3 linked regions of the Homo sapiens genome follow. The protein of the gene in region 2 purifies or fractionates together with the protein of the main gene of each other region. This does not show direct contact. Each region holds a gene or a part of one and is shown on either strand. Other genes may lie near its edges.

Region 1 (7,040 bases), on a different chromosome or scaffold from region 2:
AGCCACTGCGCCCAACCTGATAACATTTTTAATTACTTTTCCAGAATATGTTGTCTTGGCTGGCCCCTCAGTGAGCACCTAATGGAACGTGTATCCCTGAATTTCATTTCCTTTGGCATTACAACCTCTGGTATGAAACTTTGTGATAATAAATACAGTTACGTTCACACACAAATTTGACAGACTAGACCACTTTTTTATTACAGCTTAATTGGCACATGGTTCACTGAAGATACACTTCACTTTTACATAGGCTTGTAAATAGAAAAATACATTGATGCACAAAAAATATAGTACTTCAATACCAAACTTAAATGATTTCCAAAAAGAATACAGGTTATTTCAATAATTAAAGGTGGCTTTTGTGTGTGCACTATATCATGTATACACTTAATTGTATGTTTAAGGCCAGTGGAATCTATAGCTAATTACTCATTTGGTTCTTGAAAACTGAAACATGCAAACATTCTTATTTTTATGTTTAAAGACATTTAATGTGTTATTCTAACACAAATACACCATATAGAATATGCCCTGATATGTAGCTGTAAAATTATGTTGTACTGCACTGAAGTCTTATGGCAACTATATAAGGCACTGCTGTGTGATTATGACCCTGCTCTTTTTTTTTTTTTTTTTTTTTGAGACAGAGTCTCCTCTGTCGCCCAGGCTGGAGTGCAGTGGCGCAATCTCGGCTCACTGCAAGCTCCGCCTCCCAGGTTCACGCCATTCTCCTGCCTCAGCCTCCTGAGTAGCTGGGACTACAGGTGCCCACCACCACGCCCAGCCCATTTTTTTTTTTTTTTTTTTTTTAGTAGAGATGGGGTTTCACTGTGTTAGCCAGGATGGTCTCGATCTCCTGACCTCGTGATCCGCCCTCCTCGGCCTCCCAAAGTGCTGGGATTACAGGTGTGAGCCACCGCGCCTGGCCAACCCTGCTCTTGAAATGTCTAAATCTTTTCCTCACTAGCATATACAATTCAAATGCACAGGCCTCCATGACTTCTTTGGAATTTAAAAGAAGCCTTCATTTCAAGGATAGAAATATGTAAAATTTTACCAACCATGGATAAGTTTGTTATGGGAGTAGTGGAAGGACAGTGGAAAAAAAAATAGGTTTTTTCATGATACTTTTATTTTTCCTTTTTTAAAAATAAATTTAGGGGGTACAAGTACAGTTTAGATACATGAATATATTGTGTAGTCGTAAAGTCTGGGCTTCTAGTGTAACCATCACGCAAATATACTTGTATTTTTCTAATTACAGTTCTACCAAACATTTGCCACCACAAAATACAAGTATTTTTATTCTTTATTTAAATTATGGTGAGTGATATTTCTTCCTATATAGCCATTAAGATCTCTGGAAGTTTTGATCTACTTTATTCAAACCACTTTAATAAATAAGACTTTTCACCTAAATGAAATACCTTTGAATTTTATAAACAACTTCCATGAAACATATATTAAAACCACCTTTAATTTGGTATGAAGACACTTTGGCAATGCAGCGGAATAAATGATCTTGGCAAGACCCAGCAAGTACAGTAAATGCTCATGAGCTCTATGAAAAATATAGGCTACAGAATACTTCATTTTTCTTTTATTGAACTACAGTACAAATGTGACTGCTTCAATATGAACATCTATCTTCCACCAAATAGCAAACAGGCATCTTATGTAATTAAAAACTAATTATTTCAATTCCACCAATGGAAAAGCAAAACAAGTTGCAAATATCAACAATACAGAGCCTGCTGGTAAAGATAGAGATGAGTAAGTTATAAGCTAATAAAGCTGCAGCCTGAGGATGCCAGATCAACATTATAAATATGAAGAAAAAGAAACTAAATATTTACTCATCGCAAATAACTCGGCATAAGCACCAGCTATGTTCAGGTGCGGCCAGCACATAGGCCAAGTATAAATGTACAATCACAGTGAACTAAAGCCATAAAATCTAGTTCCCTGACCCTTCAATCAACCATTCAGAGCAATGGGAATATAGCGGGGAGACAGAAGTCCCACTTTGGTTGCTCATATTACATTAAGCCAGCCTGCCCCACCCCAATCCCCTTCCCACCAATAAAAAAGTCACCGTGAGTGTATAATTGGTCAATCCAGTTTATCCAAGGTCTATAGATATAGCCATGATTTGTCCTATATTCATGTTAAATAGAATGCTTACATAAAATTAATACTCAAAGACATTGAGCTGATGTGCATGTATATTCTTATTTAACATTTAAGTGGCTTTAATGGTATTTTAGAATGTCACCTATGGCATGAGTCTTCAAATCTGGATTGAAGACTGTGGCGGTTTTATAACTGCATGTAAGATCTTAAATGTAAGACTCTGGGCCTACCTACATTAAGGCAGGTGACAGTACCCTCATTCATTCTACATAATAAATACACTCTTCTGTGACTGCAAAATTCTGAATCCTTGAATGATTTACTATAATAGGCTAAGGTTGTATAAGGCACTTTTGGCTCTGAAATATTTCTCCTAACTCTCAGGCTGAATCTTAAAGAAATATTTACAAAGCTGCAACAAATTAATTTTAGAACCGGATGCTTTATTCGTAGGTCTAATGGGGATGGTGAGAAGCAATTTGTACACAATGCCCATTAATCTCTCACTGTGCCATGTATCAATCATAGAGAAGATCCCAGGCATGGGCCACCTGAACTACTATGTCGCTTACTTGACTTCTCAACAGCCACATGCCCCTTTCTCCTTTTCTTCACTTAACTGATCCGTAGAGGCATGACCATTTGATCGCACCACTCCTTCAGGAATCCAGGACTTGTCCACACACCGTTCCATTCGCTTCATTATCAGGTCCAGAAGCATCTCAATTGCTTGGCTTATGTTTGTCCCATTGGCAGCACTAGTTTCAAAGTAGGGGATTCTGGAAGACAGAGACAACTGAGGTAACAACATGTGGAGGGAAAGGAGAGTGACCTTTGCTCTTGATAATTCAAATTAGAGAATCGATAGAATACAAATATACAAGATGACAAACATTTTACCACCCCAGAGTACATTAAAAAGTTAAAAAGACAATAAAATACTCACACTGCATTTCCAGTAGATATGCAAAACTGGAAATTTTAGACTCTTCAAAATATCAATTTTTGGCTGGGCGCAGTGGCTCACACCTCCCAGCACTCTGGGAGGCTCAGGTGGGCAGATCACCTGAGGTCAGGAGTTTAAGACCAGCCTGGCCAACATGCGGAAACCCCATCTCTACAAAAAATACAAAAATTAGCCAGGAATGGTGGCATACACCTGTAATCCCAGCTACTGGGGAGGCTGAGGCTCAAGAATCACTTGAACCTGGGAGGCAGAGGTTGCAGTGAGCCAATATTGTGCCACCGCACTCCAGCCTGGGCAATAGAGTTAGACTGTCTCAAAAAAAATCAATTTTCATTTTTTAAAGGACCATATATATATTTTGGCAATACATACTGATTTACTGTAAAAAATTTATAAAAAGATATAAGTAGGGGATTCTGGAAGACAGAGACAGAATTAAATCTTTTTTCGTTTAAGTTTTTGGAGGGTTTTTTGTTTTGAGACAGAGTCTCTATCACCCAGGCTGGAGTGCAGTGGCACGATCTCAGTTCCCAGGCGACTTCCCAGGCATCGATCCTCCTACCTCAGCTTTCCAAGTAGCTGGGACCACAGGCGCACACCACCACACCTGGCTAATTATTGTATTTTTTTGTAGAGACAGGGTTTTACCATGTTGCCCAGGCTGGTTTCGAACTCCTGAGCTCAAGCTACCCACCCGCCTTGGCCTCCAAAGTGCTGGGACTACAGGTGTGAGCTGCTGCACCCAGCCTAGTTTTAAGAATTTAAAACTTGATTATTGGTATGAAAGCCGTTTAAATTCCTCTAAGTGAAAAGTAAAACTTGAAAACTTTTAGAAGAACATACAACAGTCTTATCTTTTTGACATTGGAATAAGAAAGGATTTCTTAATATAGCTATAAAAGCTCAAACCACAGAGAATAAGTTTGATAATCTTGACAATGTTAAAGTTTAAAACTTTGGTGCCACAACATATATCATAAGCAAAGTTAAAAGATGAGCGACAGGCCGAAATACATGGCATTTCATATAACTTGCAAACGGGTTAGCATCCGAAAAAATAATTCCTCAAATGAATTAAAGTAATAAACAAGATAATACAAAACAGACTAAGGATATGCACGGGAAATTCTAAGAAATTACATTTGTGAAAAAATGTTCAACCTCACCCAAAATAAGGGAAATGCAAGTTAAAATAATGGTATATTAACTCACACCCATCAGATTGGCAAAAATATAGAAATCTCCCAATATTAAGTATTGCCAAGGAGAAGAAAAGAGGAACTTGCACTTACTGCTTATGTAAGTATAAACTGTTAATAACTACTTTGGAAAATAAGACGGTAATATCTGATAAAATTGAAACATGCATGCACTATGACCCAGCAACAGCACTCCTGGGTATACATCTAAAGCAGAGCCAAGGCATGTTGATGGGCAGGAAGTGAGTTACAGGGATACATGAGACATCAGCAATCCCTCAGTCCTTAGGGCAACTGAGAAGGTCTTAGGGCAGCCAGAGTCCCTGAACCAGTCTCCTCCAAACTTGAGCAGCCTTATCTATTTATCCCAGTGAGCTGTACAAATATTATCATTTTCTGCAGGTGCCATCCTATGAAAAATATTCAGAAACCCTGTGCTGGAGCAGCACTATCCAATAGAACTTCCCACAGTGACAGGAACTTTCCATATGTATATCATCCAGTACAATAACTACTAGCCACATGTAGCTATTGAGCACTTAAAATGTGGCTAATGCAACCAAAAATGCGACTTTTTTGTTTTTGTTTTTGTTTTGTTTTGTTTTTTAGAGATGGAGTCTCACTTTGTTGCCCAGGCTGGAGTGTAATGGTGTGATATTGGCTCATTGCAACCTCTGCCTCCCAAGTTCAAGCGATTCTCGTCCCTCAGCCTCCCAAGTAGCTGGGACTACAGGAACAGGCCACCACTCCCAGCTAATTTTATCATGTTGGCCAGGCTGGTCTCAAACTCCTGACCTCAAGTGATCTGTCTGCCTCCACTCCCAAAGTGCTGGGATAACAGGCATGAGCCACCACACCTGGCCAAAAAACCTGAACTTTTAATTTTAACTTAAATAGCTACATGTGACCAGTGGCTATCACACTGGATAGTGCAGCCCTAGAGAAGCTCTCACATATGTGCACGTGGCATCGTCTAATGGAATAGATATTGCAGAACTATTTGTAATAGGGAAAAAATTTACCTAAACGTCCATCAATAAGCGCATGAATAGTGATATTTTTATACAATGAATTATACAATGCTTAAACTGTATCAACATGGCAAAAATTAAACATTGAATTAAAAAACCAACTTGTATGATACAAGATCATTTGTGTGAAGACAACAATTACACATCATTATAAAAACATCTATGTAGTAAAAGTACAACTTCTTGGACTAGAAATATATAATTTTGACTGCTTTTAGCTAAAAGTAACCGAAAATTGTGGCTCAAATTGGCATGAATCACAAGTAGGAATTTATTGTAATGCATAATGAACACAGAACTAGAGAGTTTCCAGTGTTAATTCGGTTGCCAAACGGTAGAAACAAAGAGCCTAGATTCATATCATCCTTCTGTTCTGCCATCCTCCACATGTCAGCTTTCTCCACAATCTGACTCCCTTCATGACCCCAGAAGTTAAAACATTCCAGGCATCACATCTCAACACACCGAAGTTCCAAGGAAGAAAGGACTCTTCCTCTGTGTGCCTCCCTCAGGAGAGAGGAAATCTTTCCCACAAGTCCCTGGAAGACTTTCCCTCGTGTCTCATTGGTCAAAACTGTATCACATGCCAATGCCTAAACCAAACTCTGGCAAGAGGAATGGTACACCACCATCACTGGCTTAAACCAATCAGTCTTCCTGGGCTGGTGGCTGGCACCTGCCTCTCTTAAGTAGCATGTCCTCTAGAAGCAGAGTAGATAGCTAAAGAAAATTGAGATTCTATAAATAAAGGCATGAATATTGTCTAGGCAACCAACAACATCTGCTATAGGAAGTAGATATAGTGTGGTTCCCTCTGAGGAGGTAGGAAGGAGAATGGAATCAGCAAGGAATTTTAAAAGGGACTTCAATTGTATCTGTAAGAAAATTTTATTTTTTATTTATGCATAATATAGTTTCAGAGTAAATATGATCATTTAATACACTGATATAATGTGTAAAGATAAGTATACTTGGGATTGCCATAATCTTAAATATTTGTCTTTTCTTTATACTAGAACGATTGGAATTTTTCCCTCCTAGCTATTTCAAGATATACAATAGATTGTTGTAAACTATAGTCACCCTACTGATCCTTCTAACACTACATCTTATTTCTTCTATCAAACCATATGTTTGTACCTATTAATCAATCTCTCTTCATCCTCCACTCCCTCCTACCCTTCCTGGCCTCTGGTATTCTCCAATCTACTCTCTATCTTCATGAGATCCACCTTTGTAGCTCCCACATATGAGTAAGAACATGCAACATTTGTCTTTCTGTGTTTGGCTATTTCACATAACATAATGATCTCCAGTTCCATCCAAGCTGCTGCAAATGATGGGATTTCATTCTTTTTATGGTGGAATAACATTCCATTGTATATATAAACCATATTTTATTTATCCATTCATCCATTGATGGGTAGATTGATTGCATATCTTAGCTCTTGTGGATAGTGCTGCAATAAACATGGGAGTACAGAGAGCAAATACCCTTTTGATATATCTGATATACATCTCTATATATCTTTTGGGATATATATATATCTCTCTCCTAAGAAAACTTACATAAAACTTTTAAGAAAACTTCCACTAATATATATACACATATATATACACATATATATGTGTATGTGTGTACATATACATATATACACACATATGTGTGTATGTATACATATATACACACATGTGTGTATATATACA
Region 2 (6,674 bases):
ATAAATAACCACCATCACTGTCCTTACTCATGGCAGAGAGTATTTACTAATATCCCCTCCAGTTGGGAGACACTCCCCCCACCTCCACTGCCTCTGATAACAGAAAGCAATACTTCCCTTTAGTCCATGGCCAAAGAACAGATCCATGTGGGCTGTCTTTCACATTTCCTTTGAATGAAGATTTAGTTAACAAAGAACACACAGGTCAGGGACAAGTTTGGTTTCTAAGAGTAATTTGATTTTATTTCCTCGTATGACCCAAGAGAGGAAATGAGCTCAAGGGGTGCTGTCCAGCACTCCATTAGAGGTCAGCCATGTGCAGATTGGTTTTCTTAAATAATTCTCTCTACCACCCCCTCCCCCACCTACCCAATCCTTCCAGAAGAAGTAGAATTGCCGTGGTCACTACTGAAGCAGCTGACCTGCTGGGTGCAGTTATGGGAGAAAAAATGGGAGACCACTAAGCAGTTTCTGATCAAATAAAGATTTTTTAAAAGCCAGAACTTCCCATTATTTTTGCTTAGCTCTTTGGTAACTTCTAATTCCTCATTTTTGTCTCTTCTTAAAAATTATCCTCAAAACCACTTCTGTAGATGAGAATGAAATGTTCGCCCTCTTTACAGGTCAAGAAACAGAGGCACGGTAAAGTTACGCTCATGTTTAAAGTTGCTCCGCTGGTGACAACCTGAATCAGAATCCAAATGTCCCAGCCCTTAGGAGTGTTTAGCCCATTGTGTTTACTCACCCAGGAAATATTTTGTTTTGTTTGGTTTGTGTTTTGTTCTCTCTCTCTTTTTTAAGAGACAGGGTCTCGCTCTATTGCCCAGGCTGTAGTGCAGTGGTGTGATCATAGCTCACTGCAGCCTCGAACTCTGGGGCTCAAGAGATCCTTCCACCTCAGCTTCCTGAGTACCTGGGACTGAAGGCATACATCACTGTGCCCAGATAATTTTTGTTATTTTTTATAGAGACAGGCTCTCGCTATGTTGCCCAGGCCGGTCTGGAACTCCTGGGCTCAAGTGATCCTCCCGCTTTGGCCTCCTAAAGTGCAGAGATTACAGGCACGAGCCACCATACGCAGCCTCACCCAGAAAATATTGATTGAGTACCTACTATGTGCCAGACACTGGGCCTCACTGGAAAAGAGCCCTGTAGGCAGAAGAAACAGTTTGCTCAAAGGCCCTTGGGTGGAAAGGAGAAGTAAGGAGTGGGGTGAGGAGGATGGCATAAGGTTAGGTTGGGATGGAGCAGAAACCCAACACACACGGTCTTAAGGCCACATGAAGGATTTTGAACTCTCCCCTGAGTTTAAAAGGAACCCAGTACACAGTTTTGAGAAGTGGAGTGACAATAATCAGATTTGCATCTTCCCCTTTCTGTGCATACACCCAGCCTCTCTCTAGGGATTGGGGGCAGCCTAAGGTGGGATAGATGGTAAAATGCCAGGCACCACCAGCCATGGCCATCAATTTGACTTATGGGGAGAAAGTGAGCATGCTAAGAACACAGACTCTAGATGCAACATCTGGATTCAATCCCAGCTGTGTGAGCTAGGGCACACTTCTGCCTCTCTGGATCTCAGTTTCTGTTTCTGTAAACTGAGTGGTTGTGGTTCTACTGCCTAGGGTCATGTGGGGATTAAATATGCCTAAGTTGCTCAGTCAAGTGCCTGGTACCAAGCAGATGCTCTAATGCATATTGGTCATTATCAATGTTGATCCCTTTCTGATTTATTCATCAATTCACCCTGATAAAGAAGGGGCCTTTGGGGTCAAGAGGCTGTTCTTATTCATTAAACGTCATCCATAATAGCATGTTGTGTCGCCTCCCAGCTGGCTGAAACCGGACATGGGAAAGAAGGCCAAACACAAGACTCAAATTAAAAAGAAAACCTTGAATCCCGAATTCAATGAGGTAAGGCTGCCCTATTCTTTTTCATGCTCTGGGATATTTGCTGTGTGTTAGAGAGGCACAAATAGCCACATAGCCATTAAATATGTGGCCACATAGCCATTAAATGCAGCCATTTGAAATGATGATGTAGAAAAATATTTGAAAAATATTTGAGAACATGCTAAGTTGGTTTTTGCCCAAAGTTGTAAATGAAAAAGGAAGTGACAATACTGTATGTTCAGCATTACTTAGTTAACAAAAAATTTATACATCACTGTGAACACATGTGGGGGAATGTTGACATGGTTATTCTTGGGTAGTTGGATTACCGGGAATTGGGGGTGGGGGTTCTTCTTTGTTTTAGCAATGAACATAAAATGAATTTTGTAATTAGGCAGAGAAGCTATTTTTTAAAAATCAGATTGTCTGGGAACATATGTACTCAGTCCACTTCAACTGTATTTATTTATTTATTTATTTTTGAGACAGAGTCTCACTCTGTGGCCTAGGCTGGAGTGCAGTGGCGTGATCTTGGCTCACTGCAACCTCCACCTCCCTGGTTCAAGCAATTCTCCTGCCTCAGCTTCCCGAATAGCTGCAATTACAGGTGCCCACCACCATGCCTGGCTAATTTTTGTATTTTTAGTAGAGATGGGGTTTCACCATGTTGGTCAGGCTGGTCTCGAACTCCTGAGCTCAAATGAGCCACCATCTCAGCCTCCCAAAGTGCTGGAATTACAGGTGTGAGCCACCGGGCCCGGCCACTTCAACTACTTTTATTCCTAAGCAATAAAAAAGGGGATGCCCCTTCATAAACTACCAGAGGGGAAGGACTATGTTCATGGCCATTTACCTACAAGGAAACTTGAGCTCTATTAGAAAAACCTCACCAGCCTTCCCAATTTCAAGCAGAGAATTCACTGAAAAGAGGATGACAGTGCTTTGTTACACAGAGTGTTTGTTGGAAGGGGATCACGGGACCTGGGGCAGAGGATCGGCACGGGAAGACCTCCTTGCTCCCAGAATGCCAGCTCAAGGACCTCTCCTTGGCCCATAACCCCTAGGACTCGGCCTCTTACCTCCCAATGCTGTGGGTTCAGAGGGCTCTTACCCACATGTCTTCCTCTGTTGTATTCAGGAGTTTTTCTATGACATCAAACACAGTGACCTGGCAAAGAAGTCACTGGACATTTCAGTCTGGGACTATGACATCGGCAAGTCCAATGATTACATCGGTGAGTGTTCCTAACTCCAGAGAAAACGCCCTCTTCTGTCCTCCCCAGAACAGGAGAGCCTTATCCAGGGCTACAGAGAGTTGAGGTCATTGCTATTCTTTTGGCAACCTCATTGTTCAAATGCTAAATTGAGACCCATGATCTTGACCTTGGTCCAATTTGGGGATGTCTTTACATGAAAAGCCTTACAAAACTTGATTATTTGTTGAACAAATCACCTCCAGTGGGGTAATTAAATCACAGGAGAGATTTGCGTTCTCTGCAGAAAGCAGGGTGCAAAAGAATTCTTAATTTATTTGCATGTCCAGGATAAAATTTTTAATTTTTTAGTTCCTGTTTGAATCATGAGGAAGAAAATCAATTAAAGATGAAGCAGGGGGGTGGGGACTCCAGGCAAGGGACAGAGCCTGAGCTAAGGGGTAAAGACAGGATTGAGCAGGATGATGAACCTTTTTGGAAATAGACAATGAGTTCCCAGAAGTAGTGGGAGATAAGTTTCAGTGAGTAGAATGGTGATTTGTAGAAAGCCTTTAAAAATAGACAGTGAAATTATGACTCAGTGGAACAGTAGGGAGCCATTGCAGGTTCTTGAGGCAGAGAAGGACCGTAATAATAATAACAACAACAGCAGCAACGTTATAACAACTCTCTATAGAGTATGGATCCCAGGTTGCTGGGGGTCACTGCTTGGTGCAGTTTTTTCCCCAACTACACATTTGGGTCTAGAACGACCTCTATTCTGACCACCTGCTCCTATCTTCCCATTTATCCTCCAGGAGGCTGCCAGCTGGGGATCTCTGCCAAGGGAGAGCGCTTAAAACACTGGTACGAGTGTCTGAAAAATAAAGACAAGAAGATAGAGCGCTGGCACCAGCTACAGAATGAGAACCACGTGTCAAGTGATTAGGCTAGTGCCCAGGTCCCCATCTCCATGTCCCGGGTCCCCCCCAGCCTGCTCTAGCTGCCCACCGCACCCTGATCTCTCTTCTCTATGCCTACCTCCCCCCATACCCTGCTGATCTCCCTGAGCCTGCCTTTGAGCCCCCGTCACGTTGGGCACTGCTGCCAAAGACTCCCTCCTCCCTGATGCTGGGATGTGGGCTCTGAATACAGCCCCTCTCTCATCCCTGGGATGGAGCAATGGGGATGGGGTTGGGGAGACGTTTACAAAGAGGTTGATCATTTAATAACCTCTCAGTTTGGGTAAATTACAAAGGTTCTTCATCATTTAGGACTGTTTTTAGACCCTCCTAGCCTTGAACACACACATGTACACACACACACACACACACACACACACACCCTTTCATTCCCTGTGTTGTGTCTCTGTATATCCCCAGTTGTCAGCAGACCCGGACAATGCTGTGAGAGAAGCATTGGGGCACAAATAGAGCCTCCGGGCTCCCACTGCCCCCTGAGATGTACACCCTGATTGCCAGGAAAACAGACTGCTGTGTTCAGTAACACACCCTCCCTGCTCCAAGTGCACCAGGATGCAAATGCACAGAATTCACCAGGGGCTTGGACGCTCTCCTCTTTCCGAATGTCACCTGTGTGCTTCCTAGCAAAACAAAAACAAACGACAACAACAAAAAACCCTTCCTCTGTCACCTTTTCTCCTCCTCCCTCTTCTTTCCCTTCCATGATAGTAGATTCTCTCTTTCTCAGCCTCTCCCCTCTCCTTTCTCTCCCTGCCTTTCTTCCCTTTGCCTTTCTCTCTCTCTAAAGCAGTAACACCGCAAAAACAACAGCAAAAAAAGTGTATGTTAACCTAGCCTCACCCCCTTGCTCTCACCAGCCTGACCAGGAAACTGAGAAACTGGCCCAAACCTGAGATTCCACTTGGGCCCACGCTTCTTAACTGACCCACTCCTCCCGTTGGCAGAACCAGACATTCCCAGGGCTTGGGCCAATGGCTGGCACTGCCCTGAGTGCATGGCAGCATCCCTCAAGCTGTGTAGATGCCCCATAGAGGACTCTCTCATCCGTGGGCTCCCCGGGTGGGCACGGAGGCATTTAGAAGACCAGGGCCATGGGTCTGAGGAAGCCTCAGCCAAAGCCTCCAGCCTTTCTCCTTTCTCCGCTCTTAGGTAAATGAACAAGCTACCCTCCTCCCCAATGCCCTTGACTCTGTTTCATTGACTCTTTTGCATCCCATCTCTCACTCAGAACCCCCTCCAGTCTCTCTGTCTCTCTTTGTCTGTCTCTCTGTCTCCTGCACTCTCGTTACTAAGCTTCCTGGGAGAATCAAATAATATCATGGCTATGGAACAGTAGAGAGAGACAGGCCTGATGCCAAAGGCTTTGGGCTCATCATCAATCTTTCACTTTCTTCCTATAAAAAAAATTATTTTATAAAGGAGGAAAAGGCAATGTGGGCAAACATTACAAATTTGAGGTTGAAGTCAGGCAATCTTCAATGCCCTGTGAGAAAGGTTCGATTTTCCCAATTTTGATGAAGTCTTCCCTCATGAAAATCACTCCCAGTCATCCCAAACCCCTGACATTCTCTACAGAAGCATCAGACAGATACTCAAACTCTCACTTTCCCCAAATCACATCTCTTAACTTTTCAACGCCCTCCACCCTCAGCTCCCTGCACAATTCATGGGAGGACTCATTTCTTGCCTTGAATAACCATTTTCTAAACATCGAGCTCTTCACCTTCCCCAAGGTGGCCAACAGCTTCCTGGCTGCCATCTTTCCTTTTGACCTTATCTTTCCCCATTAGTCCCTGGTGGCACCTACTCTCAGCCCACCTCCCTCACCACAGTTTCCCCTTAGGAGACAGCATGCTGGCTGTGTCGCCCAAGCCTGATGCTGGTGTAGGCGCTGGAATCAGCATGCAGCAAGCTCACAGTGCCCCTAGTCTGGGTGCCCGCTGTCCCCGACAAATGTAACCACCTCCCTGCCTAGAATACACACACGTCCTCCGGTGCATGCACAACCACCCAGCATCTTTCTTTGTGATGATGTAGCCAAAAATAAAGTAGGAGCATCCAAGAAAACGAGTGGTCTGCAGTTTTCCTTTCTGGTTTCTGCGAAGTCCTCCTCCCCACCAGGACATATGCTATTCTGATAGTCAGTACTTAATGAGCATCTACTATGTTCCAGGCACTGGCGACAGATGTGTTCTCTGCCCACGAGGAGTTTGCTTTATGGTGGATTTTATCTTGGGCAGGTGGGCCTAAGGTAACTTGGCTGACTCCAAACCCTTCTAGAAGAATACTTTTTGCTGGTGCCTACCAAACAGGAGGGCAACATCCTCATCCTCCTCCTGCTGCTACAAGACCTGGGAAACGTCCCAGGTGGTTGCAGAATCAGAAATTGCCAAAGCTAAAAGAGAACATACAATTGAGCCACAACCTAGTTCAATCAACTCACTTTTTAGACAGATGAAGAAACCAAGGTCCAGAGAAGAAAATGCCATGTCCAGTGTTAAACAAAGGCAATACCAGGAAAGGAGTTCGATCGTTGGACTCCCAGAATCCAGTGTTCTTCACACACTGATCGATGAGCATGGACCATCAAATGCCTCCCTTGCAT
Region 3 (7,040 bases), on a different chromosome or scaffold from region 2:
ATACACATATATATATTCCCCCCGCCTCAGAGATGGGGTCTTGCTATGTTGCCCTGGCTGAATTGGAACTCCTGGGCTCAGGCAATCCTCCCACCTCAGTCTCCTAAGTAGCTGGGACTACAGGTGTGAGCCACCATGCCTGACTTATTTTAAAACAGAAATACAGAATTTTTCATTATTTCAATATAAATATACCACTTTAAAGCTTTACATTAAGAAAGTAATAATTGTAATCATAGTATGCATGTGTTTACTCTTTTGAGATTGTATCATAAACATTTTCCAATGTTATCAAACTATCATTCATTCATCAAATATTTTCTTCATGTGATATAATATCACAATAACACCCTTGTTGAGTCACGAGTAACTTCTTCAGTACACCAAGAACAGGACAGAAGCTCTGTCTAAGCTACCCCACTTCCCTAGAGCAGGGCACAGTGCTGATCTAGGAAATGCTGACTATCTGGTTTAATGAGTGAATAAATAATTATGTATTACCCTATAGCTCTAAAATGTCTTCACAAAAATCTCTACTTTTTATTTCTGGCTTTTTCTTTCAAATTGCTCTCACTCTTATAGCTGAATATGTATAATCTTCCATGTCTTACTCCAAAATCCCAACAGTTCCTGGAGCTCTCGGCTAAATTCCCCACCATGGAAGTCAGTTCGAATAGAAGCAGGGCAAATCTGATTAATCTTCGTGATAATTTATCCATAATGTCTCTTGATACAAACCAAATATTTTTTAAATCCATCATCACTTTTTCTATGAAGCCAGGAACTGTTAAAGATTCTTCATTTGTCACCATGCTAAACCTATTGTTAAATCAACCTCTTTGTTCCCAACACTCCTGATCCCCAAAAACTGTTCAGGAAAAGGATTATTTCCAATCCAATCAAATAAAAACAATACGACAACTACTATTATTACTCATTGTCAGTGTCTCACTGTCAAACTTGTCACCTATGAGCCTAACCACACTGATTTAAAGCTCTGGCAAAGTTGTTACCATCTGTATGCCTTGCTAGAATAAGCAGCTCAGGCAACTCCCAGTTCAGGGAGTTCTATCCATACTGTTGCAAATTATGGGATTTCACTCTTTTTTTATGGCTGAATAGTATTCCATTGTGTATACATACCACATTTTCTTTATCCATTCATCCACTGATGGACACTTAGGTGGATACACTGATTCCCTTTCTTTTGGGTAAATACTCAGTAGTGAGACTGCTGGATCATATGGTAGTTCTATTTTTAGTTTTTTTATTGTTCTCCATAGTGGCTGTACTAATTTACATTCCTACCCACAGTATATGAGGGTTCCCCTTTCTCTACATCCTTTCCAGCATTTGTTATTGCCTATCTCTTTGATAAAAGCCATTTTAATTGGGGTGAGATGATAGCTCACTGTACTTTTGATATGCATTGCCCTGATCACTACTGATGTCGGGAATTTTTTCATATACCTGTTGGCCATTTATTTGTCTTCTTTTGAGAAATGTCTATTCAGATCTTTTGTCCATTTTTAACTTGGATTATTTCTGATGGCGGGAAATCCTTTTGTATCAAGCAGAGGGAAGCATTTTTCTGCTTATCTAAGCTTGTGTAAGTAAATCAGTAGAGGCTTCCTGTTTCCTAACACCCATCGGCCAACCTAAACAAATAACTGTTACGTTATTTAAAACAAAGAAAAAGTTCTGATCAGTGTCCACTGGCTAATAAAGTCATGTAGGTCTCGATTTTTAACCATCATGTTATGATGAACAATGAGTAACCTAGGAAATTAAATGTTTATGAAACTATCAGTATTATTAAAAGAATTACATGTATTAACACATATCACATGTAAATTACACGTATTATTTTTATGATCAGTTGAAAAAATGTTTTTTAAAAAAAATAACAGTTCCCTTGGTGAAGAAAACCTATTATTTTTTTTTTTTACACTTTAAGTTCTGGGATACATGTATAGAACATGCAGGTTTGTTACCTAGGTATACACGTGCCATGGTGGTTTTCTGCAACCATCAACCAGTCATCTACGTTAGGTATTGAAGAAAACCTATTCTCATAAGACTTTAGATGGTTTGGTTTTCCTTAACAGCTAACTTAATGAAAATTTATTAAAGCTACTCCCTGATAAACACTTTCCTATTTCCACTAAATGCCACTGTTACAATTTATTGTGCTTAATCTACCTCAAATGTGTACGCTAAAGGAATGTGTCCAATAAACTAACAGCTTAATTCTCCCTTGAGAGAGTACAGCCTTAAAAGTGATTTAACTCTTCTGCTGCAGGCATACAGGGTGACATGAATGAGCACAGGATACTGGTTGGTCTTCTAGTCCAGGATTTCCAGCTGCCCAAAAAAAGGGCAAAACTGAACTTCCATAATCTATTCTGTGAATCTTAACTGAGCAAGCTAATATAATCCAGGTGGAGGCTAGATGCTAGAAATTCAACAACCAGCGTCTACATAAAAATCAGAAGCAGCTGGGTATGGTGGCTCACGCCTGTAATTCCAGCACTTTGGGAGGCCAAGGAGAGGGGATCACGAGGTCAAGAGATCGAGACCCTCCTGGCCAACATGGTGAAACCCCGTTTCTACTAAAAATACAAAAATTAGCTGGGCGTGGTGATGCACACCTATAGTACCAGCTACTCGGGAGGCTGAGGCAGGAGAATCGCTTGAACCTGGGAGGCAGAGGTTGCAGTGAGCCGAGATCATGCCACTGCATTCCAGCCTGGCGACAGAGTGAGACTCCATCTCAAAAAAAAAAAAATCAGAAGCACAAAAGTGTACAAAGTAGAGTTGGGTCAACAAAAGGCATTCATTAGGTCAGAAAATACCAAAGCTCTGAGAGCTGTTTGAACACAGGCCCCTAAGCACTGGTGCTGCTCCGTAACAGTCACCAAACGTTTCCTTCTTACCTCTTCTACATTTGCACTGGATTTTGCGCTTGTCTCCAAGAATTTAATCCCATAGTCAATTGCTAGCTGAAAAGTAAACAGAAATATTTAAATTTAGCAAAAGATACTTGAACACATAATGCATTTGTATTTCTTAGGTTTTTCAAAGTCTCAAAGGTAGGGTATCTATTTCAGAACTCCTGTGGTTCTCAAATTTCTTTGCTTTCTTCTACTGTATTCAGAATTTAATAATTTAACTTAATCATCGTAAGAAGGATGGCACAACTTCCATTTCAAACATAATTTAAGGCCGGGCATGGTGGCTCACGCACTTTGGGAGGCCGAGGCAGACGGATCACGAGGTCAGGAGATCGAGACCCTCCTTGCTAACATGATGAAACCCCGCCTCTACTAAAAATACAAAAAATTAGCCGGGCGTGGTGGCACCCGCCTGTAGTCCCAGCTACCCGGGAGGCTGAGGCAGGAGAATTGCTTGAACCCAGGAGGCAGAGGTTGGAGTAAGCCGAGATCGCACCACTGCACTCCAGTCCAGGTGACAGAGCGAGACTCTGTCTCAAAATAAATAAATAAATAAAATAATAATAATAATTTAAGTACTTCTCTTTTTTTCTGTTTTTGTACTTTTAGTTCTCTAATATGGGATAAATACCCACCCTCCTAAGGTAGCAGAATAGGGTCTGGAGGCAGGGAACCTAAGGCCAATTCACATTGACTTCCTAGAACTAAATCAAAAGAAAAACCCCAGCCTTCCATGCCCAAGTAACAAAAGTACAGGGGTTACTCCCTTTGCAACCTCCTCCCCTTTTCTGACTCACAGATTAAAAATGGAAAGTACCTCTGATTGGTCCCCTCCCACAACCAATCAGACGTCTGCGCAGGGTATAACTTTGTAACTTCATTTCATCCTTTGATTGGTCACCTTCTGCAACCAATCAAACTGGTCATGGGCCACTACTTCATTTACAGAGTGTAAACCAAGTAACCCATGGGAAATTTCTAGAGGGTATTTAAACCCCAGAAAATTCTGTAACCAGTGCTCAAGCTGCTTGCTCAAGCCCACTCCCACTCTGTGGAGTGTACTTTCATTTCGATAAATTTGTGGTTTTGGCTTCATTCTTTCATTGTTTGTGTGTGTGCATTTTGTCCAATTCTTTGCTCAAAATGCCAAGAATCTGGCTGACTTGTAGTCAAGACCCTCCACTGGTAAAACTACCATTATCTTGGGATTCATTCACTCCTTTTATCTGCTCCCAAAGTTTAATTCTCCAACAGTTACTGTATTGACTTTTAGGCCGGGTGTGGTGGCTCACGCCTGTAATCCCAGCACTTTGGGAGGTCGAGGCAGGCAGATCACCTGAGGTCAGGAGTTAAGAGACCAGCCTGGCCAGCATGGTGAAACCCCGTCTGTACTAAAAATACAAAAATTAGCCTGGTGTGGTGGCAGACGTCTATAATCCCAGCTACTTGGGAGGCTGAGACAGGAGAATCGCTTGAACCAGGGAGCCAGAGGTTGTAGTGAGCCAAAATTGTGCAATTGCACTCCAGCCTGGGTGACAAGAGTGAAACTCCATCTCAAATAAAAAAAAAAAAAACTATACTTACTTTTAATTACTTTTTTTTTTTTTTTGAGACACAGTCTTGCTCTGTTGCCCAGGCTGGAGGAGTACAGTGGCACTATCTCAGCTCACTGCAACCTCCGCCTCCTGGGTTCAAGTGATTCTCCTGCCTCAGCCTCCTGAGTAGCTGGGACTACAGACGCACGCACGCCACCATGCCCGGCTAATTTTTGTATTTTTAGTAGAGACAGTGTTTCACCATGTTGGTCAGGCTGGTCTCGAACTCCTGACCTCGTGATCCACCCACCTCGGCCTCCCAAAGTGCTGGGATGACAGGTATGAGCCACTGCGCCAGGCCTTAATTAATTTTAATAAATGAGTCCAGAATTGAACAAAAACTTAAATACTAAAGTATTCATGCTTTGATTTCTATTGATTGAGACAAATTGCGAACTCTTATATATTCCTCAAAAAGTTCCTAGTTCATTTACAATGCTAAAATTAAGTAAATGTTTTTAGGGGAAAAAAGTTTGCAGCAAAAGTTCACAGTCAGATTGAAAAACAAAATGTGGCTGGGCATGGTGCCTCACACCTGTAATCCCAGCACTTTGGGAGGCCGAGGCAGGTGGATTGCTTGAGGCCGGGAGTTCAAGAGCAGCCTGGCCAGCACGGCAAAACCGCGTCTCTACTAAAAATACAAAAATTAGCCGGGTATATGTGTGTGGTGGCACATGCCTATAATCCCACCTTCTTGGAGGCTGAGGCATGAGAATTGCTTGAAGCCAGGAGGCAGAGGTTGCAGTGAACTGAGATTACGCCACTGCACTCCAGCCTGGGAGACAGAGCAAGACTTTGTCTCAAAAAAAAAAAAAAAGAAAAGAAAATGCATTTTGCATATATAATTTTTTTAAAGGCTAAAGCAAAATTCCAAGACTTAAAAAGTGAAGCTTCTAAGTCAATTTAGAATCTGTCACAGAAGTAAATATGTACACAAAATATTCCTTTGCTTTACAGGACACAAAAGAGAGAAATGCCCATGCCCATAAACAACATATAAATGACATCCATAGCTTGATCAGTTACAAGGAATTTATCCATAAAACCTAACGCTAATGTGTAGTAAAATATTCTTAGGGAAAAAAATGAATTGGAAAATGATTCCTGTTGAAACTTCACCTATCCCTATAACTTCTTTTTCAAAAAGAATGTTTACTTTAACTTCAAAACTGGGCATTTTCACACAGATCTGGAAGAAACAGCCTGAACTCTAAGCTGCAGGAATCTGAGAAAGGACCAATTTGTATCTCCCAGAAAACATTAGCAAATTCTTTAGGAATGAGTCATGACCACACAGTATAGAGAGCTGGATCTCGAATACTAATTCACACCATTCAAGTATGGATTACATCTCTTTGTTGTTGATATCCAATTTAAAGGGATTAAAACACAGATTTTAAAAAAAATCAATAATTAAATAATATGAAGAAAAGAAATGCTTAATGTGAGTAGATTCCAACCTTTATCCATTCCATTCACATTTACCTTCTCCCCTCTTTCTTTTGACACTTGTCTTTTGTCATTCATATCACATTTGTTACCCAGGATCATTCTTTCGACATCGGAAGAGGCATGCTGCAGGGAGAAAATAGCATGCTATAAAAACAGCCTGAGAAAAACCCGTTACTTAATAGACAAATCCAACCTGTCAGAAACACATGAATTTAATAAGACATAATCTTTTACTCACACAAGGCCTAATTCAGAGAAAAGTTTAAAGATGGGAAGAGGGGCAAAGCTACAGTACAAGAGCCCTCACAGAGCCTGTGCAAACCTTCTTCCCGAGGTTTGGAAAGAAGGTGGAACAAACACAAATAAAGCTTATGGTGATCTAATGACAAAATTTCCAAATATTCAGGTCAAAGAAGGACAAAAACTTGGTACTGAGTGAACCAGTGGAGATGGTATTCTAGATTCTGTACTATTTTAAAAAGAAATTCATCTAAGTTTATAGAAACGTGTACAAAATTATTTCAGAGTCAGATTTCTTTCTTAAGTGACAAAGACATTAAAAAAATCTTAATACCAATTATCCTGGAATTAAAACAATCTTCAAATATCTAAGATGGAGAAAATGTCAGAAGGGCAAAAAGTTGCCAAGGTAAAGAGATAATTGTTGCTAGCCAAACAGCATGGTGGGATAGAAGCTGGGAACCAGATGTTTTAATCCTGGCTCTTCTTTTTAAAGGCTGTATGAGCACAGGCAAATCACTTCTTTCTGTTCTCAGTTATTCATGTGTAAAATGTGATCTAGGATTAAATTATTTCCCATATCTGGCCCAAGCTTAAAATCTTGTGACGTTACTTCTCTGTCCCCCTAACCCCCAGTAGTCAGACTGGCAGCACCAGAGATTTATGGAGCTCTTCAGAGAGAGAGGGCCCAACCTGCCCATGCCCTGCTTCTAAGCAGCTCAGCTGCCTTGCAGACAGAGGAGCCTTTTACAAGCACCCAGCAGGACTCTTCTCCAATGTCACCATTCTCTTTCCACAC

Evidence for each region. Proteins that work in one complex are often made in the same cells at the same time.
Region 1: the proteins of RPH3A (region 2) and RAB27A purify together in Homo sapiens (affinity purification with mass spectrometry; 2 studies listed by BioGRID and IntAct, with this or other methods). This does not show direct contact.
Region 3: the proteins of RPH3A (region 2) and RAB8B purify together in Homo sapiens (affinity purification with mass spectrometry; 2 studies listed by BioGRID and IntAct, with this or other methods). This does not show direct contact.

What each region holds. Positions count from the first base shown.
Region 1 is NC_000015.10:55,202,791-55,209,830, forward strand, and holds the end of RAB27A (ras-related protein Rab-27A), read right to left. Parts: intron 2,916-7,040; coding exon 2,717-2,915; 3' UTR 176-2,716; downstream 1-175. UniProt on the Homo sapiens protein: Small GTPase which cycles between active GTP-bound and inactive GDP-bound states. In its active state, binds to a variety of effector proteins to regulate homeostasis of late endocytic pathway, including endosomal positioning, maturation and secretion.
Region 2 is NC_000012.12:112,892,746-112,899,419, forward strand, and holds the end of RPH3A (rabphilin-3A), read left to right. Parts: intron 1-1,832; coding exon 1,833-1,914; intron 1,915-3,031; coding exon 3,032-3,128; intron 3,129-3,904; coding exon 3,905-4,035; 3' UTR 4,036-6,136; downstream 6,137-6,674. UniProt on the Homo sapiens protein: Plays an essential role in docking and fusion steps of regulated exocytosis.
Region 3 is NC_000015.10:63,255,589-63,262,628, reverse strand, and holds part of RAB8B (ras-related protein Rab-8B), read right to left. Parts: intron 6,125-7,040; coding exon 6,035-6,124; intron 3,003-6,034; coding exon 2,937-3,002; intron 1-2,936. UniProt on the Homo sapiens protein: The small GTPases Rab are key regulators of intracellular membrane trafficking, from the formation of transport vesicles to their fusion with membranes.